Homo sapiens: one gene and its partners. The protein of the gene in region 1 purifies or fractionates together with the protein of each later gene. This does not show direct contact. Each region holds a gene or a part of one and is shown in the gene's direction. Other genes may lie near its edges. The genes, in order: SH3BP2, RNF146, HAVCR2, PLCG2 and TNKS.

Region 1 (6,309 bases):
GAACTACAGATGTATGCCACCGTGTCCGGCTAAGTTTTGTATTTTTTGTAGAGATGGGGTTTCACATGTTGCTCAGGCTCACCCCATCTTTTATTTTTAGAGACAGTCTCACTCTTGTCACCCAGGCTGGAGTGCAGTAGCACGATCTTGGCTCACTGCAACCTCTGACTCCCGGGTTCAAGCAATTCTCCTGCTTCAGCCTCCTGAGTAGCTGGGATCGCAGGCGTGAGCCACTGCACCCGGCCTTAGTCCCCCTCTTTTAGCTCTGGGGTAGTGGGAGCCTCCAACAGCCCTGCAGCACCCAGCAAGTCAGCTGTGGCCTCCCTGGGCCTCTGGTCCTGGCTCTGCCTTGCCTCATGCTGGCTCCACACAGCCCCCCAAATCTACCTCTTCTTTGTGGGCAGCCAGGCCTGCCCTCGGGTGGCACTCTGGGGCTAGCCAGTGTGCCTACAATTTTTTCCGTATTTGGCCCCAGAGTGGGCTCCTGGGGAGGGGGCAGCATGCCAGCCTTGCTCCCTGCTCTTCCATTTGGTAAGGCTTAGAGGCAGGAGGCCTGGCCCCAAGTTGTCCTGTGGAGGGTCCTCACAGTGGGTCTTGGCAGCTGCCCCTCCAGGCTCACCTTCCTGCCCTTGCCACCTCCCACAGGGCCCCTGCGCTTTGTCATCATCCACAAACGCTGCGTCTACTACTTCAAGAGTAGCACCTCTGCCTCCCCGCAGGGCGCCTTCTCCCTGAGTGGCTATAACCGGTAAGTGCCCGACCTGCCTGCTGACCTCGGGCCCCCACAGCCAGCGGGTCCCTCCCAGCAGAGCCCCAGCTGGGCCTGCCCCTTATTCCCGCCCAAGGAAAGTGCTTTCCCGAAGCAGCCTTCGTGCCCATCCCCTGTCCTCCCCGCCCAGCCTCCACAGTGCCTCGCCCTCTCCGCGTGTCCTGCCCTCAGGCGCAGGACCTTGGGGGTGCCAGGGTCTTCCTGTGGCTTTGTGCACAAGTCCCAGAGGCCTGGACAGCCTGCTCTCCAGAGTCTCCACTCGGCCACCACCCAGTGACTTCTGCATCTCTCCTCCCTCCCCACCTTGCCCCTTCACCCACCATGACCTCTTTCCAGGCAGCCCAGACCCCAGCCAGCCCAGGCCCTGTCCCAAACAGAGGCTGGGCCCTAGGATTCCCTGCTCCAGGGTCCTCCCAGGCCGGGATCAGTTTCCAGCTTCACGCATGTCCTGGGCTGGGCTCTATCCAGTGATGGGCCATGAGCTGCCCTGGAGGGCCTTCTGCACTAACAGGCAGGTGGGCGGTGGCCAGGTGGCATGTGGGTGGGGGAGTGCACTGGCACAGCCCATGGCCTGGGGCCCACACAAAGGGTTAATGCTGGCACCCAGCTCTGGTTCTGGTTGCTATCCCATCGGAGCCCTGCACCCCACAGCATTTATCTATGCCTCTTACCACCCCTTAAGGGCCCAGCCCCTCCTGCCTATGAGGAACCAAGGGTCACATGGTATCAGTAGTGGAACTGGGACCTTTGGAGTGACTCTAGGCCCCGGCCTGCACCCTGGCCACAGGCCTGGTAGGGCAGCCTTGCCAGAGCACCCAGCCTGGTGCCAGGCCCCCATGCTGGCACAGAGCTCCGGGGTCCCCTGGGGAAGGTCGTTCCCTTTCTGCAGACAGACACAGCGCCTTCCGGCCTCCAGCATGTGCCAGCCATGCCATGAACCCTGGGCCCAGTGGCAGATGCAATCATGCCCCAGGGAATTGTCTAGCCCATCAGGGAATGCTGGGCCTGAGGAGTTTTGGCCAGGCTCTTATGGGCCGTATAAGTGCACCTGCCCCGGTGCCTGGCTGGCAGGGCTCCCCACGTGATAAACTCAGCGCAAACCCCACATCCTGGCTGTGTGAGTGGGCCGCAGAGCAGGCACGAGTCATTCCCTGAAATGCACTCAGGGCTGCTGCTGGGCCTCAGGGGCACGGAGCCCTGTGGGGTACCCCAGGGAGGCCAAGCAGGCCTGGGCAAATGGGGCCAGAGGTGGGAGGGTGGCGTCCATGTAAAGTGGCATTGGCGGGCATCGAGGCAGGTTTGTCCTTGTCTCCTGTGCACTGCTGCTCCCACGAAGCCCACCCAGCACCCCTCTTCCATGCCCCTCCATGCCCCCTTACGCCTGCCTGGGCATGAAGCTCACTACTGGGAGCATCAGCAGCCAGGGCCCACCCGATCTGCCCTCTTCCGTTGGGGCGTGGTGCTGGTGCCGAGACGTGTTCACAGGGGGGTGCTGTGGGAAGGCCATCCCTATAGCTGTGAACCAGGCCGTGACCCCTGGCGCTGTGCCCCCAGGGTGATGCGGGCGGCTGAGGAGACCACGTCCAACAACGTTTTCCCCTTCAAGATCATCCATATCAGCAAGAAGCACCGCACGTGGTTCTTCTCGGCCTCCTCCGAGGAGGAGCGCAAGGTGACTGGGGGTCCGAGGACGAGTGCAAGGTGACTGGGGGTGTGGGCCTGCAGGCACCAGGCTGGACCTGCCTTGGGGGCTCGCTGGTCCTGGGGCGCTGGCCTCTCAGCCCCGGGCAAAGAGAAGGTGTGGCTGGGACACAGGCAGCTGGGTGGGTGCTGCCCCAGCTCCATCCCCATGCCCAGAGCCTGGTGCCAGCGCCCACACAAGGAACATGCTGTCCTGGGAGGTGCCCCTGTGGGCTGAGGGGAGCCACACAGCCATGTTGTATCCAGCCGGGTCGCCTCCTCTGACCTTGGGAGTCACAGCAGAGCAGGCAGGGCAGTGAAGGTGGAGGGGTGCGGTGGGGCCCACCCTGGTGGCACCGTGCCCACCACAGCCCCGCTGACCTGCAGAGCTGGATGGCCTTGCTGCGCAGGGAGATTGGCCACTTCCACGAAAAGAAAGACCTGCCCTTGGACACCAGGTGAGCCCGGGCCCAGGGCATACCGGGCAGTGAGGGTCCCTGGGGCGCCTGGGCCTGACCCGGGTGTCCGCCTCCCAGCCCCGGGCTTGGCATAGAATTCCGTCCTTAAAGGTTTCCTGGAGGTGCCAGCTGGGCTGCGTCTCTCTGCTCCTGTCTACAGATAAACACAGATACAGGACAAGCACAGATGTTCACACACAGACGAGCGACACGCGGACACGCACACACAAACACAAGCAACACGCGGACATGCACACACACAGAGCAACACGTGGACATGCGCACACACACAGAGCAACACGTGGACATGCACACACACACAGCAACACGTGGACATGCACACACACACAGCAACACGCAGACATGCACACACAAACACAGAGCAACACACAGACATGCACACACACACAGAGCATGCACAGGTGTGCATGCATCTCTCTGCTCCTGTCTACCTCCAGCCCCATCTGTCACATCTGTTTCTGTGTTGCCGCCATGGGTAGTTCCTGTTAGGGGATCATGTGTGTTTATACGCCTGCCACCAGGGAGGCCTGGCATGGCAGCAGCTGGGCACTTTGGGTTCCCAGCCCCCTACGCCCACCCTGGCTCACTCAGAGTGAGACCAGAATGATTCTCCTGGCGGGGCGCCACTGGGCAGTCTGAGCCTTGGCAGCCTCCCCCGTGAGCTGGCCCGACGTGCAGCAGATACTCTCTGGATTGGGACTTCCTGGCCCGAGACGATGTGGAGGGAACAAACCTTCCTGTCCTTTCACAGGTGGGGACAGGAGGCCCAGGGAGGGCTGGGCACAGCCAAGGCTGCCCTGCAGGTCCCTGCCTGACTCCGGGCTCCCGTCCCCTGGTCCAAGCTGTTCAGCCTCGGGCCCAGCCCAGAGTCGCCCAAGCCCTCTTGAGGCAGGAGCAGGTGGAGACGTGGGCACAGTCAGGGCGGCCATCCTTGTGGGCCAGAAGGGGCACCTAGTGGAGGCACCACAGCCTCCAGTTCTTCTGTCTGTCCTTGTAACTGTGTGTGCATGTCCGCGTGTTGCTCCGTGTGTGTGCATGTCCGCGTGTTGCTCTGTGTGTGTGCATGTCCGCGTGTTGCTCTGTGTGTGTGTGTGCAATGTCCACGTGTTGCTCTGTGTTTGTGTGTGCATGTCTGCGTGTTGCTCTGTGTTTGTGTGTGCATGTCCGCGTGTTGCTCTGTGTGTGTGCATGTCCACGTGTTGCTCTGTGTTTGTGTGTGCATGTCCGCGTGTTGCTCTGTGTGTGTGCATGTCCGCGTGTTGCTGTTTGTGTGTGCATGTCTGCGTGTTGCTCTGTGTGTGTGTGCATGTCCGCGTGTTGCTCTGTGTGTGTGTGTGTGCATGTCTGCATGTTGCTCTGTGTGTGTGTGCATGTCTGTGTGTTGCTCTGTGTTTGTGTGTGCATGTCTGCGTGTTGCTCTGTGTGTGTGTGCATGTCCACGTGTTGCTCTGTGTGTGTGCATGTCCTCATGTTGCTCTGTGTGTGTGTGCATGTCCGCATGTTGCTCTGTGTGTGTGCATGTCCGCGTGTTGCTTGTGTTTGTGTGTGCGTGTCCGTGTGTCGCTCGTCTGTGTGTGAACATGTGTGCTTGTCCTGTATCTGTGTTTATCTGTATACTTCCATGTCTGTGTGACAGAGTCCTTGTGTCTGTGTGTCTACATGTCTGCGCGTGTCCCTGTGTCTTTGTGTATATATATCCATGCCTGTGTGCCTGTGTTCCTGCGTGTGCTTGTGTGTGCACGTGTGCATTTGTGTGTTTGTCAGAGTATGTGTGCATGTGTGTGTCTGTCAGCGTATCCATGTGTGCATGTGTGTGTCTGTCAGCGTATCCGTGTGTGCATGTGTGTGTCTGTCAGCTTAACCATGTGTGCATGTGTTTGTCAGTGTATCCGTGTGTGCATCTGTGTATCTGTCCATGTATCCGCGTGTGCCTGTGTGTACCTTTGTGTGAGCATCAAGGGACCTCCCAGGCCTGGTGCTCACCGTCCGCCCCAACGCACCCTGCATTGCAGCGACTCCAGCTCGGACACAGACAGCTTCTACGGCGCAGTTGAGCGGCCTGTGGATATCAGCCTTTCCCCGTACCCCACGGACAATGAAGGTGAGGTCTTTCTCCGCATCCACTGCCCGTTTGCCTCTCCCCACCTGGCCTCCTCTTGGCCGCTGTGGAGGAGAGGGAGGTGTGTTCGGCTGTGCTCCTTGCTCTGGCCCTTTGGCAGTGCGCAGTAGCATCCCTGGGCTCTGGCCTTCAGCGGCAGGGTCTGGACTCACAGTCCTCCCAGCAGGTGCTTGCCCCTTGCCTCCTGGACTCAGCCCCATGCATGGAGCATTGCTCGGAGACTGGGCCTGGGCCGGTTTGGCTCTCACCACCCCCCTCTCCCCATGCAGACTATGAGCACGACGATGAGGATGACTCCTACCTGGAGCCTGACTCCCCGGAGCCCGGAAGGCTTGAGGGTAGGTGGGGCGGGTGGGCCCGGGGAGCTCTGGGTGTGTAGGAAGCAGGGGCTGGGACCGGGAGCAGAGCCCCTCCGAGGCTGGGGATGCTGGCCCAGGTACCGCTCTGGGTGGCTTCCGCTTCCCTGCTGTGTCCCAAGTATTATGAGGATTGGAGCAGAAGAGGTGTAGCTGCTGCCACCTCTGCTCATTTCCTCCTCCCACCTCCCAGGAGGAGGGACAGGCACATGGCGATAAGTGGCAGGTGGAGCCGGGGTGGCCCTGGGGGTTAAGCATGGGGAAGGAAGGACGCTGAGGAGCGCGCAGGCTCAGGGCAGGTCCATGTCCCCATGGCTGCCAGCTTGTGTGGACACTGCTGCAGGCCAGGTCGTTGTCCCACCCCACCCCATCCCATCCCAGTGTCCACCTACCTCCTGCAGCACATGGCCTAGTCAAAGAGACAGGCTGATACAGGTGGTCACACGTGGATGACGGAAGCACGAGCTGGGTGGGGAGGACGTGTCTCTGTCCTCCTCTGTCGCCTCCCTCCCTTCCTCCCTCCCTATTGTCTCTCCAGCCCCCTCATCTTGTCAATTTCCTCATGTCTGGGGCTGATCCTTGATCCTTCCATTTTCCCTGCGTCCGCCCTGCCTCCTTGTTTTCCAGCCTCCTGTTCTCACTGACTTGGCCTCTGCCGACCCCAGCCCCTGACCCCGTATCCTCTCTGCCTCCCATCCACTCCCACCTTCAGGCTCCCGGGTCCAGCCCCTCTTCTCCTGCCGCTCCCTCCCTCCTTCCCTCTGGGGTCCCAGTGCCAACAGTCCTTCAGCCCACGAGGGTCTGCGGGCCGCTTGCCTCAGTTTCCTTCCATGCAGAGCTCTTGTCTCACAGTGTTCACCATGCCTGTCCCTTCGCCCACACACTACTGCCTTCCGTCTTAGCCTG
Region 2 (5,408 bases), on another chromosome or scaffold:
ACATACAATCAATCTTAATTGATTTTGATACTTAGGGACAGAGTATATTGATCAGTCTTGGAGGAGTTAGGGGACAGTACTTACTAGATGTTGAGGGGTTAGCTTTGTAAACAAGTAGCAGTACCCCATATTGAGCCAGGAGGAATAATGATAAGACAGTAAAGGTAAAGATAGATTTTCAGGATTTATTTTTGACTTACCTAATTTCTCAGTGATACAGGTGTTAGTATATCGATAAACTAGGAGGGAGAAGTTTTATGATAGTCTCTGGGGAATAGGGAAAGAAAGATGTCTTGGCCGAGTAAAAGTTTACTGGGATTGATGGTGTTTAGGAAATCAAAATAGCTATTAAGTGTGTGGGGTTCACAACTTTTGCACCACACAAAAGTGAATTGTATGGTGAAATTTTTGTCACTTAGAGTAACTTGCTTGATTATTCTTTTTTGCGAATGTCTCCCTTGTTGGCTTTTGTGGTGGTGGTCTATCTTTATTTCCTGTTCTTCTCTGACCATTCCTTACACCCCTTCCTGGCTATTTTACCTCACAGATATTGGAGTAATTCAAGATTCTGTGGTTGGCCCTTTTGACTGCTCTCTCTACAGGTTTAATTTGGGCATTTACTCATTTTCATGGCTCCAAGGACCATGTATGTGTTGGTGAGTCACCAGACTTTTTTCAGCTCAGATTTATTCTTGGAGTATCAAACTAGTAAATTCAGCTGTCATCTACCTATCTCCACCTGGAGACCTTAATAAAGTCATTATGTCTGAGACAGAACTCTCCTCAAATTCTGAATTTTGGTGAATGTGTCACCATCCATCAGTAATCAAATGCTTTCATTTCTTTTTCCTTAGCATTCTTCTATTCTATTGTTGGAAACTTACATCAGCAACCTCCCTCTAATTATCTTATACTTGCATTACTACCTGGATATTCTAGTTTCCCTTTCGCCATACCTCCTCCTGCATTACCAAACTTTCCTCCAACCTGCTGTTCAAATGGTCTGGAAGCTACTAAACTGGCTGTTATTTCCTGACGTAAAACCTTTCAGTGAACTCCTCTTGTCTCATTAGTGGTTCATATGTGGACCAGCTTCATAGAAATCCTTAAGCCCCTTGAAATTATATGTAGGATTGTTCCCTTTTTGTGTGTCTGTAATTGGATTCTAAATTCAGACTTTAAAAATCTGATTTTTAATATTTGGAGTTTTTATTGCAAGCTAAAAATTTCTTGAATACTACACATACTAAAGATCTTTTTTGCTTATAATAATTTTGCCTTTCATTTGACTAGTTGTCCAAGAAGTTTCAAGGAAATCTGAGTTCTTGGAGATTTCCACTAACTCTGCCCATACCCCTCTATATTTTGTCTTCTTGAGAAGAAGACTTAGTATTAATAGACTCTTATTAGTCTGGCAGAAATATTTCACATGGTTTATCTATTGGAAGAAGGGGATTTATACTTAAAAGTTGGAATATCACATGAAGAATTCAGTAAAAACGTCTTTGAAAGTAAATGATGTATTATACTTATTAATAGAATTGGACTAACGTCACTCCAAATTTCTGTGTATTAAATTCTTAGTTTAGTAAACTGGAAATAAATTCCCTTTTTCAAAATTAGAATTTTCTGAGACATTTATGAGATAGGGAATACCTCTTTTGATTAGCATTAATACTTGCTCTACACAAAGGGAGGGGAAAAGCTTTCTTATTTACATATTGGTATGATCATCTGCATACATTTAGTCTCCCACCTATTTTAAGATCATTGGAACTGCAAAACAGAGACTGTGTAGGGTAGATTAAAATGGTTTTTTAAAAAGCCTTGAAGTATGTCTTATAGGTAGACTAGCAGTTTGGGGTTACTTTGTGTCTATCTTGTTACACATTTTATCTCTATCTTACTTATTGCATGTGCCTCATTCAGAATTAAATAAGAAATATCACTAAGTTTTTCTGCCCATTTGTTAGTTGGTGATAGACTAACAGTATACTTGATGGGCTAAACAGAATCAGAATTTATAAATTGCTATGGCAAATTGATAGTTAAGAGTGCTTCAGATGAAATAATGACCATTTAGCTGTCTGGTGTCCATTGTTTGCAGATTAACTTTGTCCAACTTCACTTCATTCTGATGATGGAACCAAAATACCTGCACAAACAGGATTGTTTTGCCTTTCCAATTATGTTATTATAATTCATGCCTTCTCCTGGGATGATTGTAATTGCTTTCTTAGTTTTGAAATTATGTGTTTTGGTTTATTCATAAATGCAAGAGTAAGAGTCATGCAAAATATTAATCATATTAAGTAGGGTGGAGGATAATGTTTTTAGGTTGGAAACTTTTTTTTCTGTAGATAAACGAGCTGTATGTGATGGAAAACTGACTTCTTGGGCCCATTTTACTTAAAGCAAATACAATAGGTTTGGAATTATGTATTTAAAAGCATGGCATTGGTCCACGTGACATGTTGGGTGTCTTGTTTTCATTTTACCAGACTCTGTTTTTATTTATGTTTTCAGTTTATGATCCTGTCCTTTGTTCATAAGGTACTTAGATGGTTTAAGATGTAGACTTCTTATATGAAGATGTTGCTGTTGTTTTTCCAAAGTAATGGTGGTCATCAGCCCATTTTTCTATTTAGTCTCATGAATAGAATCATGAGTAGAATCTTTCTTAAATTATTACTTGTAAATGGATCACTTTCTTGTTTTCTTTTTCTTAATTGGAGCTTTAAATAAATATGGAACTTGGAACAAAAAGATTTTCAGGAATTTTATGGAAACTAACTTTTTTGACCTAAATCGAAAGGGATGAAAGTTTCTGAAAACCTAACAAAATGTGTGCACAGCCAATTCTTTTAGGGGAGGAAATAGGCAGGGAATGTGTAATTGGCTATTTTAAAAACATATGCCTTCTTTTGTAACTTATTGTTGTTTCAAGTTACAAGATCTTTGAAGGCAAGTGTTTATCTCAAAATATTTGAAAGCTTTTATAGTGCTTAACATACTAAGACGTCCTATTAGGGTTTACTTAGAACAAGCTTATCCAACTTGTGGGCCACATGTGGCCCAGGATGGCTTTGAAAGCGGCCTAACACAAATTCATAAGCTTTCTTAAAACATTATGTGATTTTTTTTTTTAGCTTATCAGCTATCATTAGTGTTAATGCATTTTATGTGTGGCCCAAGACAATTCTTTTTCTTCCAGTGTGGCCCAGGGAAACCAAAAGATTAGACACCCCTGACTTAGAACTTTCCATAGGTTAGGAGAAAGTTGTACTTTCTTGATGTCTATAACCTAGAATTTCTGGTAAAGGAATTGATTGGAAATGTTATTAAAAGTTGAAAATAATTTGGAAATTAAACATTTTAGTGATCAGTTCTTCCATTGAGACTGTGTTGGTTCCTTTACTAGATATGTGCCATCTTTTTAAAAACTTACTGTGTTGCTTCCTTTACTAGAAAATTGCCATCTTTTTGAGCCTTGTCTATTGAGGAACCAAGAACACAGAAAAGGCAGTAAAAAGAAAAAAAAGGATTGTTTGAAGATTGAATGTGCTGTGATGATAGCCTAGGATTATTGTTTTTCAATTTTTGATGAGCGTAAGCATTCTTGTTGACTATATCTTTTGTAACTACTGACCCATTTAGAATGGCAGAATTAGCTGGCAGAGAGATTGTCATTCATTTTAAGCTTTCAATCTCTGACATCTTCATCTTTATTTCTCAGTCTTTTTTACTTATCAGTGGTTTACTCCATTATTTTCTCCCCTTTTAAAATGTCTTTTTTTTTTTTTTTTTACCATGGGGAAAAAAATTAGATGTTTCCTTGGCAGGGCACAATAACACAATAAGGCTTTCATGACTTAACTTTTGATTACCTTTACACCTTCATCTCCTGCTCTTCCATTGCTTGTATGACTATTTGACTCAGTGTCTTGCATGTGCTTCTGCCTGGAATCTGCTCCACTGCCCAGCCCCTCTGAATGAACACTAAACTTTCTAACCTATGTCCATCCTCTCATCTCTCTCTTACTGTTATTTTAGTAAGTATGTTAACACATTTTGATTACGCAGGAATCAGGCCATATTGTAATTATCTGCATGTATGTTTCCTTATTTAACAGAGTAGTTGTGTGTCTTATTTATCTTTAGACCCATCAGTACTTAGTATTGTATCTGGAACATGGCAGGTGTTTAGTAAATGTTTATCTGAATCAATAAGGCAGAAATTATAAATTTTATGTCAGTGTTTAAGCTAGATACATCCAATTTGACAAATCTTTTTTCTTCTTCCTCTTCAGGGGATCTTCAATATTCATGTTATTTTCTCCTTTGGTCTTATATGATTGTTACCTTTATGAAGCTTTAGTGATTACAAAGCACTTTTTTTGTCCATTTTTACCTGAGCTTTGTAAACTCTGATTTGCAGGTAAGGAAATTTAGACTAATGGTTTAACTGAGTGCCTAAGAGCACATAATTAATAAAGGACTCTAAAACTCAGATTTTTAGATTTCTTGTCTAGCATTCATTTCACTGTATAATAGCTGCCATGATTCAAGGTATCCTTTTCCCCTCACTGGATGCAGCTTTTCATTATATAGTTCTTCAGTGTGTTTCTCCAGGGCTGATCTGTTAAGTGCACTGATGGAATTTTTATACATTCCCAAGGTATGTACAAGTAGATGCTTACAAAAAATTTTCATCGGTTGGAGAGTTTTTCCTCTACTTTCATCTTCATATCCCCATTGTCTAGTATGTGGCTTGCATATAATGCACATCATAGGTGGTTAGTGTTTTCATAATTGTTAAATTAAGATATTGCAAGAATTAAAACATGACTTTAATATTATATGTATTTTTTCTTAGGATGGCTGGCTGTGGTGAAATTGATCATTCAATAAACATGCTTCCTACAAACAGGAAAGCGAACGAGTCCTGTTCTAATACTGCACCTTCTTTAACCGTCCCTGAATGTGCCATTTGTCTGCAAACATGTGTTCATCCAGTCAGTCTGCCCTGTAAGCACGTTTTCTGCTATCTATGTGTAAAAGGAGCTTCATGGCTTGGAAAGCGGTGTGCTCTTTGTCGACAAGAAATTCCCGAGGATTTCCTTGACAAGCCAACCTTGTTGTCACCAGAAGAACTCAAGGCAGCAAGTAGAGGAAATGGTGAATATGCATGGTATTATGAAGGAAGAAATGGGTGGTGGCAGTACGATGAGCGCACTAGTAGAGAGCTGGAAGATGCTTTTTCCAAAGGTAAAAAGAACACTGAAATGTTAATTGCTGGCTTTCTGTATGTCGCTGATCTTGAAAACATGGTTCAATATAGGAGAAATGAACATGGACGTCGCAGGAAGATTAAGCGAGATATAATAGATATACCAAAGAAGGGAGTA
Region 3 (6,309 bases), on another chromosome or scaffold:
ATAAACTTTATAGTCTTTAATTTTACTTAAATATTAACTAAATTGAATGAAATGCTCATTACTTTGTCCACATTTTCTGACTGACCCTGGACTGGTGATGTTTGGTCATGAACTGGTGTCAGTCTGTGTTTGGGAACTGACACATTGGATTAGGTGATTTCTAGGATGCCTTCTAGCTAGAATAAAGCCCATCACCTTCCCTGGATTCCAGCCACAGAAAGAATAGTTAAATTCTTCATGTAATTCAGCAAGGACGTACTCAGGGTGCTCCAGAAGAGAACACTGGGCATAAAGCAGAAGTCAAGTCACATTGATCATGAAGGTTAATTTTAAGGTATTTCTTGTCAGTGTCCTGGTCTCTTCTAAACTCTCTGGAGCTCCATTTTTTTTTTCTTCTGTAAAATGAGGTTAATAGGTGAGTCCCACCTCATAATGTCATAAATCTCATAAATCACACCTTATGGGCTTTAAATAAGAAAATGTCTAAAACGTTTATCCCAATGTCTGACCACAATTTGTACATGTTAGCTGTTGTCGTTAATATTATAAGATCAGGAGGCACAGTGAGATTGTGGTTAAAGTACTTCAGTGACAGGTGGAATGGGTTCTAATTTCAGCTGTTCTTGATAGCTCTGTGACCTCAGTCAAGTTGCTCAAATTCTCTGAAGCTCAGTTTGCTCATCTCTACAATGAGGATAATTCCAGTGCCCATGTCATGAGGTGGTTGTAATGTATAAACATGATAATGTATGTAAAATGCTCAGCATAGTACCTGGCCCATAAAAAGCACTCAACTGTTTATTATTACTATAGTTACTGGTTTTAGCTCTCCAAAGTTTCAGTCTTTGGTTAGTCTTTAGTGATTGGTAGCCAACATCTTTTATGCAATTAGAGAGGAAACTAAATATGGTGGGGACAGAAAATAATAAAGTTATACCAGATACTTATTGTATGCCATTGTTATATTTTAAAGAATCTTACAACCATAGTGCTAGAAGGGACTTCAAGGGTCATTTAGTCTCACTTTCCCATCCTGTGCTTCAGTACTTTTTTTTTTTTTTTTAATTGAGACGGAGTCTTGCTCTGTCACCCAGACTAGAGTGCAGTGGCGCAATCTCGGCTCACTGCAAGTTCCGCCTCCTGGGTTCACGCCATTCTCCTGCCTCAGCCTCCCAAGTAGCTGGGACTACAGGCGCCCACCATCAAGCCCAGCTAATTTTTTTCTTTTTTGTATTTTTAGTAGAGACAGAGTTTCACCGTGTTAGCCAGGATGGTCTCCATCTCCTGACCTTGTGATCCTCCCGCCTCGGCCTCCCAAAGTGCTGGGATTACACGCGTGAGCCACCGCGCCCGGCCAGTACTTTTTACTACATCACCACTGAATGGGCATTTGCTGTAGACGGAGTTCACTCCCTGTCGAGGTGGTGCATTTCCTTATACTTGTCTCTACCACAGACAGAAGTCTTCTTTCCTTTAGTTTTTCTTTCCTTTTTTTTTTTTTTTGAGACGGAGTCTCACTCTCTCACCCAGGCTGGAGTGCAATGACACGATCTTGGCTCACTGCAAACTCTGCCTCCCAGGTTCATGCCATTCTCCTGCCTCAGCCTCCCAAGTAGCTGGGATTACAGACGCGCGCCACCACGCCCCGCTAATTTTTGTATTTTTATTAGAGACGGGGTTTCACCATGGTGGCCATGCTGGTCTCGAACTCCTAACCTCAGGTGATCCCTCTGCCTCGGCCTCCCAAAGCGCTGGGATTACAGGTGTAAGCCACCACGCCCAGCCTTCCCTTTAGTTTTTGTTTGTTAGTTCCTTCCCTCTAGGGCAACAAAAATGGGAATATAGGAATAATACCTCGAACCTCTGAGCTTCTCAAGGGCCTGACTGAGAAAAAATATTGAAACAACCAAAAATAGGTCAGTAGCTCCTAAATAGGAAAATAAAATAAAAAATTGAAATGAATGAATATTTAATGGTTTGTCTATAATATGTAACATTATGTAAATTGGCTGCTGGCAAACCAACTCTAAATGTGGGATGTGGGAGCATTTAATATAAAAATGGGGCTGGGCACAGTGGCTCACATGTGTAATCCCAGCACTATGGGAGGCCAAGGCAGGCAGATCACTGGAGCTCAGGAGTTCAAGACCAGCCTGGGCAACATGGCAAAACCCCATCTCTACTAAGAATACAAAAAATTAGGCTGAGTGCAGTGGCTCACACCTGTAATCCCAGCACTTTGGGAGGCCAAGGCAGATGGATCACCTGAGGTCAGGAGTTTAAGCCAGCCTGGCCAAGATGGTGAAACCCCTGTCTCTACTAAAAATACAAAAATTAGCTGGTCATGGTGGTGCATGCCTATAATTCCAGCTACTCAGGAGGCTGAGGCAGGAGAATTGTCTGAGCCTGGGAGGAGTGAACCGAGATCTCACCACTGTCCTGAAGCCTGGAAAACAGAGCGAGATTCCATCCCAAAAAAAAAAAAAAAAAAAAAAATAGCCGGGCATGGTGGCATGTGCCTGTAGTCCCAGCTACTTGGCAGGGCTGAGGCAGGAAGATTGCTTGAACTCAGGAGGTTGAGGATTCACTGAGCCGAGTTGGTGCCACTGTACTCCAAACCTGGGCAACAGAGCGAGACCCTTTCTCAGAAAAAAAAAAAAAAAAAATGGAGTAGAGCCTTTAAAAGTAAGAGATCCAAGGGCCTGGAATTTGAACACAGAACAAATGCAACTTGTCTTCTACCTGAAGGAGTAAGGACTGGGTCACAGGTGAGTCCTCAGCTCTAGAGTAGATCTGCTTTAAATCCTAGCTTTCCCAATTAATAGCTGTGTGATCTTGGGCAAAGTGGCTCTCTCAGACTCAGTATCTTCATCTGAAAAATGGGGAAAATAGTAGTACCTACTTATTGTGGTTGAGGATTAAATGAGATTGTATGTATATGGTGCTAAGCACCATGTCTGGCACCTAATAAGTACCAAATAGATGGTAACTACTAAATTTATACACTGTTAAGGCCATCACATCTCACCTCCGCTGCTACCTGCCCCACCAGGCAAATCTTGGTTTCTCCAGAAAGAACATTGCCACTCCCTTCAACTGTCCCATCCATCTTGGTTGGTGGCCAAATCTGTGTGAAAAAAAGCTGTAATGACACAACAGTGCTTGATTTTACTGATCATTTTCATAGCAAAATGAAGTTTTTAAAAAGTTAGTTTTACCATTTTTATCAAGAAAAATAATTATAAGGAGTCTGAAACTGGATTTACATTTAAAATCTTATGTGCACTTAAGATTCATGTTTACTTAGCAGTTGTACTGATGAGGGTCTTTTTTTTATTTTTTTGATATGGAGTCTTGCTCTGTCACCAGGCTGGAGTGCAATGGTGTGATCTCGGCTCACTGCAACCTCCACCTCCTGGGTTCAAGCGATTCCACTGCCTCAGCCTCCTGAGTAGCTGGGACTACAGGCGTACACCACCACGCCCGGCTAATTTTTTGTATTTTAGTAGAGATGGGGTTTCACCATATTGGCCAGGATGGTCTCGATCTCCTGACCTCGTGATCTGCCTGCCCTCGGCCTCCCAAAGTGCTGGGATTACAGGTGTGAGCCACTGCACCAGGCCTGTGGTTTTTATATTTTAAATTTTTTTCTGGTAATTAGGGCAAAAGTAATTGGAACATAATCTTTTTTTCTTCAATAATTTTAGGCTGAGGCTATGCCTTTATAATATTTAAACTATAGTTTGCTAAACCAGCATTTAGTCAAACCCTTTATACACATTAAGGCTTCCAGAAGGTGACAGTGACATTTAAGAAGTTTCAACATCTCTGACTCAGCCATAAAAATGAGTAAGCATGCTTAGTTTTCCAAAAGCTGGCAATGTACTTATTTTTAGAATTCAGTGTTCATGAGGTCAGGGCCTGTGCCCCTCTTGTTTCCTGCTCTGTCCCCTGTGCCTAGAGTAAGGGCATAGTGCATATTCATGGAATGGATCAGCAGATGAAGAAATAAACAAATGAACAGGAAGGAAAGATGGTGAGTGGGTGGCTGGGCAACGTGACCCTCTTCATAATGACAGCACTGAGGTAAGGGCTGGTGAAGGCAGTATAATTAAGAATGTGCATTTAAGGCTATGCAGACCTAAATTGGAAGGCCATTTTGTCATTTGCTAAGTCATGTGACCTTGGGTTAGTCACTTCACTTCCCTAATTTTCAGTTTCTTCATCTGTGCAATGGGACTAACAGTCTCTACTTTAGAAGCGTAGTTCTAAAGTAAGTGCTTCTAAGTATCTCTAAAATGAGCTTCTTCACTGAAAGAGTTTATTTAGCACAAGGCCTGGCTCCTATTACATTGTGACCACAGTGATTATTTTCATTTGTTGGCAACCCTGTCTCCCTTCTCATGAGTAAATGCAAAACTTATTTAAGAAAATGGAGGCTGGGCACGGCACGGTGGCTCACGCCTGTAATCCCAGCACTTTGGGAGGCCGAGGCGGGTGGATCACTTGAGGTCAGGAGTTCGAGACTAGCCTGGCCAACATGGCGAAACCCCGTCTCTACTAAAAATACAAAAATTAGCTGTGTGTGGTGGTGTGCCCCTGTAGTCCCAGCTACCAGGGAGGCTGAGGCAGGAGAATCGCTTGAACTCAGGAGATGGAGGTTGCAGTGAGCAGAGATCATGCTACTGCACTCCAGCCTGGGTGATAGAGTGAGATTCTGTCTCGCAAAAAGAAAAAAAAGAAAAAGAACATGGAGGTTGCAGTGAGTTGAGATTGTGCCACTGCACTCCAGCCTGGGCAACAGAGTGAGACTGTCTCAAAAAAACAAAAAAGAAGGAAATGAATTTTTGTTGTCTTTTAAAATCTAATTAGAATATAATGCCTGAGGCCAAGCCTGGTCGTTCACACCTGTAATCCCAGCATTTTGGGAGGCTGAGGTGGGCAGATCACCTGAGGTCAGGAGTTCACAACCAGCCTGGTCAACATGGCCTCGTCTCTACTAAAAATACAAAAATTAGCTGGGCGTGGTGGTGCATGCATGTAGTCCCAGCTACTTGGGAGGATGAGGGATGAGAATTGCTTGAACCAGGGAGGCCGAGGTTGCGGTGAGCTGAGATTATGCCACTGCACTCCAGCCTGGGTGACAGAGTGAAATTCTGTGTCTAAATAAATAAATAAATAAATAATGCCTGAGTCTTATCAATATTGCTAGATGTTTGTAGAACTCATTAGGGTCCTGTGAAAAAAACAAAGCACATATTTAATGTAGGACTTCCTGGCAGAAGTCTCTATTTCATAAAACAGTACGGTTCATTATCTAGATGAAAAAATGTGGCCATCCTAAAGTTGATTCCTGGGTGTTCAGTAAATTTTGTCTGTCTCTCCATTAATTATTGTGACAAGTACGGAGTAGAATTCATTTCAAATAGGATTATAGGCATCATTAAGATTTTTTAAAAACTTAGATAAAAGAAAACGTTCTTAACTATACTATTGGCTATTTTTCCTCTCTCTCTCTCTCTCTCTCTTTTTATAGCAGAGACACAGACACTGGGGAGCCTCCCTGATATAAATCTAACAGTAAGTAACTTTTTTTGTGAGCTATGTTGTACTCAACTTGGAGGGGAAATCATGGCTTTAGACTTCCTTCATGCCCACCTTGTCCTTGGGGTAAAAAGCCTTAAGTTCCCTTAGCTTCAGATTCCTGGGCTGTAACATGTTGATGATGACAGTTCTAACCTCATAGGCCTGCTGTAATGAAGGACTGACATGATGTGTGTAAAGTGCCTGGCATATAGTAAGAGCTTGAAAACCACAAAGAAGAAACATTAGCATTTTGTCCCTCTTATTCTTCAATTTCACAACTGTCTACCCTGTGGAAGGTTCAAAGATTCTTCATCTCCCTAGAATACCATTCTTCTTGCTTCCATTGCAATCCTAATGGGAAAGAGTATTTAAATTTATCTCTTTAAATATGGCAAGACACCAGTCAGGAATATTCAAAGTGAAGAGGTTTTTTTTTTTTTTTTTTAGACAGAATTTCGCTCTTGTTGCCCAGGCTGGAGTGCAAGGGTGTGATCCTGGCTCACCTCAACCTCCGCCTCCCGGGTTCAAGCGATTCTCCTGCCTCAGCCTTCCGAGTAGCTGGGATTACAGGCATGAGCCACCACACCCGGCTAATTTTTTTATTTTTAGTAGAGACGGAGTTTCACCACATTGGCCAGGCTGATCTTGAACTCCTGACCTCAGGTGATCCACCTGCCTCGGCCTCCCAAAGTGCTGAGATTGCAGGCGTGAGCCATGGCACCT
Region 4 (6,309 bases), on another chromosome or scaffold:
TGAGTGGCCAGCGATGCCTTGCCACTAGAACCTTCTCCTAAAACTCATCCTGATTGACATGAGACAGGATTTTGGTTCCTGAAGTTCATGCCCTGTTAACTAAACCCCTTTCAGTACTAAAATCAGTTCACTCTTTAATTCTGCCCTTTCAGCTTCCTGATTTCTCCCGATTCCTTCCTTCTCCCTGGAGCGGCCGACAATGTCCACCACGGTCAATGTAGATTCCCTTGCGGAATATGAGAAGAGCCAGATCAAGAGAGCCCTGGAGCTGGGGACGGTGATGACTGTGTTCAGCTTCCGCAAGTCCACCCCCGAGCGGAGAACCGTCCAGGTGATCATGGAGACGCGGCAGGTGGCCTGGAGCAAGACCGCTGACAAGATCGAGGGCTTCTGTGAGTACTCGCTGGGTGGGGCAGTGTGGCCCGTCCTCTGGGGCCCTGGCCTGAGCACCTGTCCACCTTCCTGTCTTGTCATTACTGTGATTGTTGTTGGTTTGATGTGTTCTTTTATTCGTCTTAAAATGAAAGCATTGCCAGTTTGTGTGGATCTCTGATGAGGTTTACACCAGGTGGAGGAAGTTCAGCTGGGAAAACTCTGGTGAAAGAACTGAAGCTGAGGTCAGCCAACATGGAAATGGCATTCAGGCAGCTCTCCTTGCCTGGTGGTTCTGTGCCCTGTCTGACAGCATCAGGGATCGTCTGGTTCCCACAACTGGTCGAGTCATCTTTCCTCTTAAGGGCGAATTAGCCCAAGCCTGCAGAAACTCATAGCTTGGTCGCCAAATGCTACCTTGTTTTACTGCATACCATAGCAGTGAGGGGCCTTTGCTTTAGTCTCCAAGCAGGGAGAGTGAGTTGTTGAACGTTTTGTAGCTTTCAAATGCAGGTCTGGTCTTGGTAGAGGTGTCCCTCCTCCCCTACCTCCGTTTGATTGGGCAGCTGGTTCAGATCCTAAAGTTTCTAAGACTGTTTTTAACAAATAGAGTAAAGGCACTTAAGCAATTTTCAGTTGCAAATATTTGCTCTAATTTGTGTTTTTAAATTAACTAGTTTTTAATTGAAATATATATTCCTGGGGGTTAAGGAGTCAACTCAAATATTTCTCCTCCCTAAACCATCCTACTGAGGCAAGCTCATTACCAGTTACTTTTATCTTCCAAAATAGTCTATGCTTGCATAATGTGTGGGTTTAAAAAGAAAACAATTGGGAACTCTTGTACACTTCTGCACCTTGACTTCTTTTTGTTAATTAATAATGATGTTGGCGGTGGTTTCTTATCAGCACACATTGATCTCATTCTTTCTTGGACACATGACATGTAATGGCACAGGCCTCAATGTAACAGTTTAACTCCAGAGAAGGGCATTTCATGCTATTTCCAGGCTTTTGTTATTATTCGAAGTGACTATCATTGTACTCTTTTTTTTTTAAAACAAAATTAATTTTTTTGAGACAAGGTCTCTTTCTTTTACCCAGGCTGGAGTGCAATGGCATGATCATGGCTCACTGCAGCCTCAGCCCCCTGGGCTCAAGTGATCTTCCTGCCTCAGTCTCCCAAGTAGCTGGGACCATGGGAATGCACCGCCATGCCTGGATAATTTAATTTTTTTTTTTTTTTTTTGTAGAGATGGGATCTCACTATGTCCAGGCTTGTCTCCAATTCCTGTGCTCAAGTGATCCTCCCTCCTTGGCCTCCCAAAGCATTGGGATTACAGGCATGAGCCACCTCACCCAGCCTTGCACTCTTTTTTTTTTTTTTTATAATAGATTGATTGAGACATAATTCACATAGTATACATAGAATTCACCCATTGTATGCAGCATGTATAGTGTGGTGGTTTTAGTATATTTATATAAATGTGCAAGCACCACTCCAATCAAAAGTAGAACCTTTATATCACCTCAAGATGAAACCCCATACCTTTCACCATCACCCCATCCCCTCATCCCCCCTACCAGACGTAAGCAACCGTTAAATTTAATTCTGTTTCTATAAACCTCTCTATTCTGGACATTTCATAGAAATGGATCCTATGTATGTGGGCTTTTGTGACTGGCTTCTTTGACTCAGCATTTTTCAAGGTTCATCCACTTTGTTGCGTGGATCAGAAATTTTCCTTTTTGTGGCAGAATCACGATACGTTGTATGGGTATTCCACAGTTTATTCAGTCATCTGTTGACGGACCCTTGGGTTGTTGCCACCTTTTGGCTAATATAAATAGTGCTGCTAAGAATGTTTCTCTACAAGTTTTTGTGTGGATGTCTGTTTTTATTTGTTTTGGGTATATACCTAGGAGTGGAATTGCTGGGTCATACACTAACTCAGTTTCATCATTTTAGGAACTGTCAGACTGTTTTCTAAAGTGGCTGCACCATTTATATTCCTTCCAGTGGTAGAAAAGGGTGATCGTTGCATTATTCTTCATTTGTATATATGGGTATATCTGAAGGACAGCTTCCTGAAGGTTTATTTCTGAGCTGAAGGATATGGCATATATATATTTTAATAGACAGAGTCTCGCTCTGTTGCCCAGGCTGGAGTGCAGTAGTACAATGTCAGCTCACTGCAAGCTCCGCCTCCCGGATTCATGCCATTCTCCTGCCTCAGCCTCCCGAGTAGCTGGGACTACAGGCGCCCGCCACCACGCCCGGCTAATTTTTTGTATTTTTAGTAGAGACGGGGTCTCACTGTGTTAGGCAGGATGGGGGTATGGCATATTTTAACTTTAAAGGGAAGTTTGGCAGCACCCCACAAAAGAGGTTGCCCCCACTGTCTGTTTCAGCCACAGGATGTAAAAGTACCTGTTGCCTGAACCCTCATCTATGCTGCGTGGCTGCTGAACTTGGCCATCCACAGGTAGACTTTGGTAGCTTGGTGTCATCCTTAATTTGATGTATCCTATCATGAGTGTGATCAAACTGCTTTCTGAAAGGCTTTTCCTGGTTTTGGAGCCCAGTGGGTCTCTTGTGGCACAGAGCCAGAGCCCTGCTTTGGAACTGCCCATGTGGAGGTGGCCATCTTCCCTCTTGACTGTTTGCATTGGCCGGCTCCACCCCCAGGTGGCCCAGAAACCTGTTGCAGCTGGGGTGGCCACCCTCCCTTCCCCCACAAGGGGTGAGAGGGTTGGCACTGATGGTAAATACAGATGGGCCACGTTGAGACTGGACTGCAGGTTGTTCCTTTCTCTTCTCAACCTGCCCATCCCAAACCTAGCTGCCCATCAGAAACACCCAGGGGGGATCTTGTAAGTATAGGGTATTAACCATGGCATGTGTATACACCTGTGTAACAAACCTGCATGCTCTTCACATGTATCCCGGAACTTAAAGTAAAATAAAATAAAATAAATATATACAAAAAAGAAATTACAGGGTATTAGAACCTTCTTCTGAAGCTCATTGTGATGGGCATGAGACAGGATTTTGGCTTGAAATCTATGCCCTGTCATTCTCCCCTTCTGCTGAGTAATACCATTTCACTCGCTTACGCGGATGCGCTCTCTCGCTCTCTGTTTTAGAGACAGGGTCTTGCTCTGTTGCCCAGGCTAGAGAGCAATGGCCTGATCATGGTTCACTATAGTTGTGAACTCCTGGGCTCAAGTGATCCTCCTGCCCAGTCTCCCAAGTAGCTGAGACTACAGGTGAGTGCCACCATGCCTGGCTGATTTTTTAACTTTTGTGTAGATAGGGTCTTGCTATGTTGCCGAGGCTGGTCTCCAACTCCTGGCCTCAAGTGATCCTCCCACCTTGGTCTCCGAAAGTGCTGGGATTACAGACAGGAACTACCATGCCCGGCCTCAATTCATTCTTTTATTTATCTGTTCAGCCTCTTTATTTCCTTCTTCTTTCTCCCTGGAGAGACCAAGAATGATGATATTTCACCACTTTGGCTGGGGCGTATTATTATAATAAGTCCCCCGGATGGTCTGGTAACTAGGCAGGTTTCACACATATGCCACTGGAGAGACACTGCCCTTCCTCCACCTTCCCCCTCCTCTCCCTCCTCTTCTCCCTCCCACTTTCCCTTTCTTTCTCCTTCCCTTCCCACCTTTGCCCCCCCTCCATTGCCTCCCCTCTGTCATTTGGATGCCCACTGTAGGCGCCGCCCTAGGCGCTAGAGATACAGCAGTTATTAAATTGGATTCAAATCTCCGTGGAGCCTATATTGCTTTATTAGGTATGAGCAGTCTGGGGCTTGACTTCCAGTGCCCTTGGATGAGCTTTGCTGTGTGATCTTGGGCAAGTTACCTCCACTCTCTGAACTTTAATTCCCTTATCTGTGGACTGGAAATAACATTGGTGTCTACCCCACAGGCTCATGGTTGGGAAGAAGCAAATGAGAAGATGCATTGGAGAGGCTCGGCTGAATTCATAGTGTGTGACAGGCACTCAGTTGTTGGGAACCACCACTTTCAGGATGTTTGCTGTTGTTGCTAACTAGTGGAGTCCAGCCTATGTAGTCTTCCTTAGGGGTTTGGACTGGAGGGGAGTAGGGTCCATTCTCAGGTTTTCAGAAGAGGGATGACGTGATTGGATTTGCATCTTTGAGCATGCAGTGGAGGTCCTGTTTGCAATGATGGTGTTGGTAAAGTGACAGGGAAAGCCAATTATGTGTGAAGAGCTTAGAAATGGTGCTTCTCCCTCACACCTTGAGAGAGCAGGCCTTCAGGCCCTGGGTGGGGACTGTCAGTGTCACCGCTCAGTCTCCTGCTGAGAAGGGTGACGTTTTATCTCAAGAAGAACTCCCAGCTCTGGCAATTTCCTCACGGGGTTCTGGTTAGCAGGAACTTGCTGGTTACTGTGGGGTCTGCAGGGGCAGGTGCACATGAGAGGAGCACCGGCACCTGGTTTTGGAATAGTTGGCAAATGGTGTGTGACTTTTGGACAGGTGTTACAATCCCTGTGCAGACCTGGGTAAAATACCTAGGTCCTACTGTCTAAAGCAGCGTGTGGTTCTCAACCAGGGTGATTTTTGCCTCTCCCTCCCTACTCCAGGGTAGGGGGCATTTGGCAAAGTCTGGAGACGTGTTGATTTTCTCACCTGGGATACAGGGTGCTACTGGCATCTAGTGTGTAGAGGCCAGAGAGGCTGTTAAATGTTCTGTAGTGCACAGGACAGTCCGCACCACAGAGAGTGATCCAGCAAACGTGTCAGTGGTGCAGGGGTTGAGAAACTGCTCTAGAGTCATGTGTTTGCTTTGCTCACAGCAATAAAATGTCACTGGGTAAAATAGGGTTTTGCTCTGAACCCTGTTTGGATGGAATTTTCTCATTTGTTCAGCACATGTTTGCCATCATATTGAGTGCTAAACTCTGCAGAGAGAGGGAGGAGGAGGATGGAGTCCCAGCTTGCAAGAGGGGGAGACAGACTCAAACTTGCCCTTGCAAGATTGTGTGCTTAGTACCATAGCAGGAGTTTTCACTGGATGTGGTGTGAGGAGGGAAGGTTTTTGTCCATTTGGATGTGGGGGAGGTGGTGAGGAATGGGGAGGGCTCATTGTGGAGGAGCTGCTTGGGTGGAGTTTAGAGAGATTTGCTAGATGGTTAGCAGGGATGGCTGCCCTGATCCTGTGGGATTAATGGGTGTCATGTAATATAAACAAGCAGATTTGTGGGTCATAGATCTGGGCAGAGCTCAGCTGGGCAATTCTTCTACTCTTTGTAGCCTGGACTGAGGTCATTTGGTGTCACCTCGCCTGGAAGGTTCCAGAATCTTCACTCACACATCTGATACCTTAGTGGTGATGGCTGGAAGACTGAGCTTAGCTGGGATTATTTTTTGTTTGTTTGTTTTTCAGACGGAATCTCTGTCACCCAGGCTGGAGTGCAATGGTGCAGCCTCGGCTCACTGCAACCTTTGCCTCCTGGGTTCAAGCTATTCTCCCACCTCAGCCCCCCGAGTAGCTGGGATTACAGGTGGGTACCATCACATGCAGCTAATTTTTGTATTTTTAGTAGAGATGGGCTTTCACCATGTTGGCCAGGCTGGTCTTGAGCTCCTGACCTCTCGTGATCTGCCCACCCTGGCCTCCCAAAGTGCTGGGATTACAGGCATGAACCACTGCACCCAGCCTTAGCTGGGACTGTTGACCAAACATCTACCATGTGGTGGTCTCAGGCAGAAGAGTCCCAGGCAGAAGCTACAGGCTTCTTACGACAGCCTCATAAATCCGAGGACATCACTTGCACCAACTCAGATCAGCAAGCCCAGCTCAGCTTCAAGGAAAGGAAATTTCTCTCTTAGAGAAGGAATGGCATGCATATCGATGGTAGGCAGGAACTGATGGTGGCCACCAGCAGCCAAGCTC
Region 5 (6,309 bases), on another chromosome or scaffold:
ACAAATTGAAAATTATGAAAATCCAGTAGCATAGCTATCAGATTCAACAGATAGTAAAGGATCATCCTTTATTGATAAACCAAAATCATAAGTATACAATACCAAATTTTTTTTCTGGTGAAATCTTGGACATCTAAACTGAGAAAACCTAGAAGGTTGATGTGAGGGGATATGGGTGGTAACTAAAAAAGCAGTTATGTCATTTATTTTACCAGTAGGTCATTTTTGAAAACTTTGTATCAGTTTCCTGTAAAGTCTCCAGAGATATACGATCATTGGGTTTGCTGTCCTATGTGGTGGACTAACATTTCTCATTGCCCCACTTTAAGATCTGAAAGATAATTAACCCTACTACCCAGGTAAGGTAGATTATGTTACAGTCTTGTGACTGACAGCATAAAGAAGAGATGCCCTAGAGGAGAGTTTCTTTCACTTTGTCCCTCCCCAAGTCAAGAAACATAAAAATGAACTCAATGCTTGAGACACTTACCAGAAGAATTCTTCCATTTCCAATCTGCTTTTTCTGGTGCTGTTCTCTTGCCTGCACCAGGTTTTGTGCCATATGTGAATGGTGTCCCAGTAGTATAGGGGCATAAATGCCTGATGCTCTTGTACATCTCTATTTCCTTGTGCATGTCTGAAAACAGATGGGTGTACAATAGGTGAGTCATCAAGAGATGTACACCACAAAAAAAGGGTTTTTTTGGTTTATTTAGAATACTTTGATATGCAAGTTATAATAGTTTGGATATTTGATTATTTTGCTAGAAATTACCATTAAAGTGAATTAAAATGGTGGAATATTTCAGTTCACTACCAATTAACATTTATTTCTTGTAAATACTTAATATATAATGCATGCATTTGTCAATTAGCATATGATCTTCCTTTCGCCAAAATGTTCTTCTATTTGGTATTTTTTTCATTATCTTCAAGGATTATATACAAAAAACAAGATAAATACAAAAGGTGTGAACATAAGCTATGCTTTGAATTCTTTTATTATTTTATTAAATACTTTTAAATATTTTAAAATAATTGTATTGGGATTTATTGGATTTTATTTCTTAGTACGACATGGATAAATAAGTTGTTTGAAATTTAAGTATTTTAATTTGCCTCTTTTCATTTAGTGGACTTGTGCCTCTTCATAATGCATGTTCATATGGACATTATGAAGTCACAGAACTGCTACTAAAGGTAAGAGAAATTCAGAATATTGAGCATCATTTACTTTTTTTTTTTTTCTTTACCTTGTCATGACTTTCCATACTTTCGGCCTCATGAAAGTTTGTTTAGTTCTTTGGGGTTTTTTGTTTGTTTGTTTTGAGACAGGGTCTTGCCCTGTCACCCAGGCTGGAGTGCAGTGGCACATTCACAGCTCACTGCAGCCTCAACCTCCCAAGTTCAAGTGATCCTCCCCCTCAGCCTCCCCAGTAGCTGGGATTACAGGGGTGTGCCACCACGCACAGCTAATTTTTATGTTTTTTGTAGAGACGAGGTTTTGCCATGTTGCCCAGTCTTGTTTTTTTAGATTTTAAGAGAATAAAATACGTTTTTAAACATATTACCATTGCCTTAAAATTTTTAAAACATTGAATTTAATTTCAGCTGTTTTTGAAAGGTGATATTGAAGAAATTAAAACACTTATTTGAACAAGTTATAACTGAAATTTACAAAGAAATAAATGTCTTTTGAGTTTTATTTGATCCAGCAAAATGATTACTGACCTAAAATGTTTTTTTTCTCAATTCAGCATGGAGCTTGTGTTAATGCCATGGATCTCTGGCAGTTTACTCCACTGCACGAGGCTGCTTCCAAGAACCGTGTAGAAGTCTGCTCTTTGTTACTTAGCCATGGCGCTGATCCTACATTAGTCAACTGCCATGGCAAAAGTGCTGTGGATATGGCTCCAACTCCGGAGCTTAGGGAGAGATTGACTTGTACGTATTTATATCCCGAAATCATTATCGCATAAATTGGAATATTTAATTTCTGTTGAGTTTTATCTACCTTAAATAATAACCTTCCATTCTTACAAGCAGACTAATTCATAATCCTCATTTCTAATTGTATACTTTTCTTCATGAATTCCATGGGAATGTTATATACAGACACTTTTTGTATATATTGTATTTATTCGAGCCTAGTTTTAATTCGTATGTTGAAGCTCCTTTTTTGGTTTTTTGAAGGCTAATGAGGATGAGTCAATCAGCATCCATTTCTTGGATACTTGCAATGTGGCAGGCACTAGAAATATAGCAGTGTACAAACCATTAAAAAGCTCTGAGCTTCTGGGGCTTACATTCTTGTGCTATTGACAGTGATAGGTATCTAGCATTATTGAAACCTCTTATGGGCTTACGTTCTTGTGCCATTGACAGTGACAGGTATCTAGCATTATTGAGCCCTCCCCATTTCCCGAGCCCTGCAAGGCTGCACAATCATATTTTTATTTGTCATGTGTGTTATGACCCAAGTATAATCACTTTCCCATATTTAAGTGAGATTTTAAAAATAATTAGGTTGAGGTCATCTTCTGAATATATTACCAATATATACATGCAAATGTTTTTTAAATAAACTTTTTGTTTCAGCATAGTTAAAGATATAAAAATATTGGATTCTCATTCATGCAATTAATTTAGATACAGCTTTTCAAAAAATCTCTCACCTGGTTATGAAAATAATAAGCTATTAATTGTTCTTTGAAAAATTTTCAAGCTCTGCATTTCTCCCATATTTTAGTCCTTTCCTTTTCTGTGTCAAGACCTAATCACCATTGATATTTTGGTAAATATTTCTGTAAATGTTTTCTATACCATTACTTATGGTGTACTTATGGTGGCAATAGTAGTAGCAAGAGTAGTGACAATACCAAAAATAATGCATCAGCCTGTCCTTTCTTTTTTGAATTTTCATGTACCACTGTATACTTTCATGTCAGTGTATGTAGACCTATCTCTTGTTTAAGAGCTAGAAAGTGTTACAGCATATGTGCACACAAATTATTTAACTGGTTTCCTTTTGGTGGACATTTAGGTTTCCTGTTTCAAAATTTTGCTGCAATAAGTATCTTTATAGGTGTATCTTTATGACTCTGAGAGTGTGAAACAGTCTTATTTCAGAGCATACATACTTCACATTAATCTACATCCTCATCTTTTGCATTTTTATCATCATATTATCACATTGCTGCTGTTGTTAAAATAGAGAAATTCATAAAATAATAATATTCCTACTTATTTATAATCATGCTGAAGATTTTTATACATTTTTACATCTTTTTTTATGTCAACCATTGTTTCATTGACAGATGAATTTAAAGGTCATTCTTTACTACAAGCAGCCAGAGAAGCAGACTTAGCTAAAGTTAAAAAAACACTCGCTCTGGAAATCATTAATTTCAAACAACCGCAGTCTCATGAAACAGCACTGGTAAGATTTTATTGTTAATCTATTCCCTGTGTCTATAATAATAACGTAAGCACAAAATATGATTTTCATTTCAGAAACCTTAAAGTAACTTTAGTATCTGAAATGCCAGGAATTTGCATGTTAATTTTGGTTGCATTGATTTTTAAACTTAGTTTGGGGGGTGATTCTTTTCATGGGTGAGAGAATTGACATTTGCTCAACCTCAATTTGGAAATTATTTTACCTTTGTCTTCCCCACCTCATTATAACAAATCCACTTTTGTGGCCAGTGCTTTCATAAACTACAAGATATGATTTTTCAATAGAATTTTTTTTTCTTATGTTTGCTAGATAAATACTAGATTTCCTTCTGTAGAAGATTAAAGTATATTTTTAGATATTTGCATTATCTTTTTGAGCAATTGTATTCAAAGAACTGATTATATTCATGGTAGAAAAATGGCAAGATCATGAATTTTTTGTTTGATACTATACAAATTATTCTTAAAACTATCCACGTTTTTTTCTTCAAATGCACTTTCGGAAAGATTTATTTATTTTCTTTGTCATTGACACATTAAGGCTCAGCTAGAGAGTGGTTAGTGATCGCTCCTAAATTCAGAATTTAAGCATATGTGATGCCTGCATCACAGACCTTAAATATACCTAATTAATATTCTTACGTATATTTGACACAAAAGATCAAACGTTTGTCAGTATCTGCATAAAACAACATTAAAGGATTGACCAAACTGAAATAGGCTAACTATATGTACACTTAAATACATGTCTCTCAAACTAGGGTTGAGATAGATTCAAGCTACACGGTGTTATGCTAGGAGATATTCATAGCCACAGAATAAACCTGACCCACTTTTTTGGAGTTTTCATTTTATTTAGTTGAAAGTAGTTTTTTATTTTTAAATTTTAATACGAATATTAAAATGAAGCAGAATAAAAAAGTTGTATAAATATTATGTTAAAACCTAAAATTTCTGAGAATATTTTTCTCTAAACTGCTTCAGTTCTATCATTTTCTTGCTTATCCTTGGGCATATAAACGTCTCCTGTAGTGCTGGGAGTACCTCTGTAGAAGAGCTTAGAAATACTGACTTGTGTGGCTGATGGCCTAATGAAAGATTGAGTAACTTAGTTATAGATTTCTGTAGCGTTGCAGAGGCATACGTATTATGATGCTCTCCATGGAATATATAGTGAATATTTATTGATTGGCTAAGCCAAAAGAAATAAGATCTCTCTTAATGTTTAAGAGCATAATTTCACCTTGGTTTAAACGCTTACGTTTTGTATTTCCACTATACGTAGAAAGAATATGGATCATCTCTGTGATATAAAACATATACATATGTTCTGATACTCTGAGATAACAATGTTTTAAATGGTCAGCAGATACTGTTCAATTCCAAGAGCTACTGTACATATGGAAGTGTATTTTATTAACTTGGTTTTGTTTACTTTATAGCACTGTGCTGTGGCCTCTCTGCATCCCAAACGTAAACAAGTGACAGAATTGTTACTTAGAAAAGGAGCAAATGTTAATGAAAAAAATAAAGAGTAAGTATAATTGCAGAAGGAGTTGTTCAGTTCCTAAAGAGGAAATGCAATAAAAGAGAGACAATTACCTTTTCTTTCTTTCCTCTTTTCTGTAGTTTCATGACTCCCCTGCATGTTGCAGCCGAAAGAGCCCATAATGATGTCATGGAAGTTCTGCATAAGCATGGCGCCAAGGTGAGGCACACACCTGAGCAGAGTGCCAGACTCAGCACTGAGCAGCCAGCTGCTCTTAACACTGCTTCTCTCTCTCCGATTTTTCTGAAGAAACTAATTTTATAAAGGACTATTAGTTCGTACTTAAATTCATGGATTCTCCTATAAAGCTGATTTAGATCTTGTTTCTAATAAAAATAATTACCCGTGTTTCTTGATCCTTTAATGTCACCCTTCTGTAAAGCAACAAAATATAGCTATAGTCATTTGAAATAGATTTCATCTTTACATTACTTTCAGTTAATACTATACGGATATATTTTGATAGTGTCCACTTGAATAACAGTTTATCAGAAAATAAATTATGTTAAATGATAGCATCAGAATAGCTCTACTTATTCTAAAAAACATTTGTGGCCAGGCACAGTGGCTCACGCCTGTAATCCCAGCACTTTGGGAGGCCGAGGCAGGTGGATCACGAGGTCAGGAGATGGAGACCATCCTGGCTAAGACGGTGAAACCCCGTCTCTACTAAAAATACAAAAAATTAGCCGGGCGTGGTGGCGGGTGCCTGTAGTCCCAGCTACCCAGGAGGCTGAGGCAGGAGAATGGCATGAACCTGGGAGGCGAAGCTTGCAGTGAGCTGAGATTGCGCCACTACACTCCAGCCTGGGAGACAGAGTGAGAATCTGTCTCAAAAAAAAAAATTGTATGCCTTCAGATTTGTAATAATTTTCTCAACCTCTACACTAAAGAAATATGACATATTTAATAATTTTTACTGGCATTTTCTGAATGGTGTAGTCTGAAACTTTGTCAAGCACTTAAGAGAGGAAAGAAGCAAACTGGTTGTTTTTTAGAGGTGACTTGAAATTATAGATTTTTTCATTCTCAAGAATGTATATTTCAAAGCAGTTGTCTCCAAAGTAGGGTATAGACTCCCTATGGAGCATACAAGATGCCCTGTTGGAAAAATCCTAGCATTTCAATTTATAATACTTTTATTTAAGAATAAGGAAATTCAGATTTACCAATATTGAATACAAAGATGATGCCAGCACTCTCACTAGGTCCACGTGTCAGCCATTGTGACTCGTGATGTCAAGGTTTCCTGAGGTAAGAGTGGGACTTGTTAGTATCGAGGGATTGACAGTGGCAAACTC

The links.
Region 2: the proteins of SH3BP2 (region 1) and RNF146 purify together in Homo sapiens (affinity purification with western blotting, with the first as the bait; one study listed by BioGRID). This does not show direct contact.
Region 3: the proteins of SH3BP2 (region 1) and HAVCR2 purify together in Homo sapiens (co-immunoprecipitation; one study listed by IntAct). This does not show direct contact.
Region 4: the proteins of SH3BP2 (region 1) and PLCG2 purify together in Homo sapiens (pull-down; one study listed by IntAct). This does not show direct contact.
Region 5: the proteins of SH3BP2 (region 1) and TNKS purify together in Homo sapiens (affinity purification with western blotting, with the first as the bait; one study listed by BioGRID). This does not show direct contact.

What each region holds. Positions count from the first base shown.
Region 1 is NC_000004.12:2,822,290-2,828,598, forward strand, and holds part of SH3BP2 (SH3 domain-binding protein 2), read left to right. Parts: intron 1-645; coding exon 646-748; intron 749-2,323; coding exon 2,324-2,441; intron 2,442-2,836; coding exon 2,837-2,907; intron 2,908-4,940; coding exon 4,941-5,029; intron 5,030-5,316; coding exon 5,317-5,385; intron 5,386-6,309. UniProt on the Homo sapiens protein: Binds differentially to the SH3 domains of certain proteins of signal transduction pathways. Binds to phosphatidylinositols; linking the hemopoietic tyrosine kinase fes to the cytoplasmic membrane in a phosphorylation dependent mechanism.
Region 2 is NC_000006.12:127,281,740-127,287,147, forward strand, and holds part of RNF146 (E3 ubiquitin-protein ligase RNF146), read left to right. Parts: exon of another isoform or gene 1-3,609; intron 3,610-4,310; exon of another isoform or gene 4,311-4,438; intron 4,439-4,876; coding exon 4,877-5,408. UniProt on the Homo sapiens protein: E3 ubiquitin-protein ligase that specifically binds poly-ADP-ribosylated (PARsylated) proteins and mediates their ubiquitination and subsequent degradation. May regulate many important biological processes, such as cell survival and DNA damage response.
Region 3 is NC_000005.10:157,098,129-157,104,437, reverse strand, and holds part of HAVCR2 (hepatitis A virus cellular receptor 2 precursor), read left to right. Parts: intron 1-5,536; coding exon 5,537-5,580; intron 5,581-6,309. UniProt on the Homo sapiens protein: Cell surface receptor implicated in modulating innate and adaptive immune responses. Generally accepted to have an inhibiting function.
Region 4 is NC_000016.10:81,785,791-81,792,099, forward strand, and holds part of PLCG2 (1-phosphatidylinositol 4,5-bisphosphate phosphodiesterase gamma-2), read left to right. Parts: intron 1-152; 5' UTR 153-199; coding exon 200-392; intron 393-6,309. UniProt on the Homo sapiens protein: The production of the second messenger molecules diacylglycerol (DAG) and inositol 1,4,5-trisphosphate (IP3) is mediated by activated phosphatidylinositol-specific phospholipase C enzymes. It is a crucial enzyme in transmembrane signaling.
Region 5 is NC_000008.11:9,705,054-9,711,362, forward strand, and holds part of TNKS (poly [ADP-ribose] polymerase tankyrase-1), read left to right. Parts: intron 1-1,133; coding exon 1,134-1,200; intron 1,201-1,757; coding exon 1,758-1,944; intron 1,945-3,317; coding exon 3,318-3,439; intron 3,440-4,901; coding exon 4,902-4,993; intron 4,994-5,088; coding exon 5,089-5,167; intron 5,168-6,309.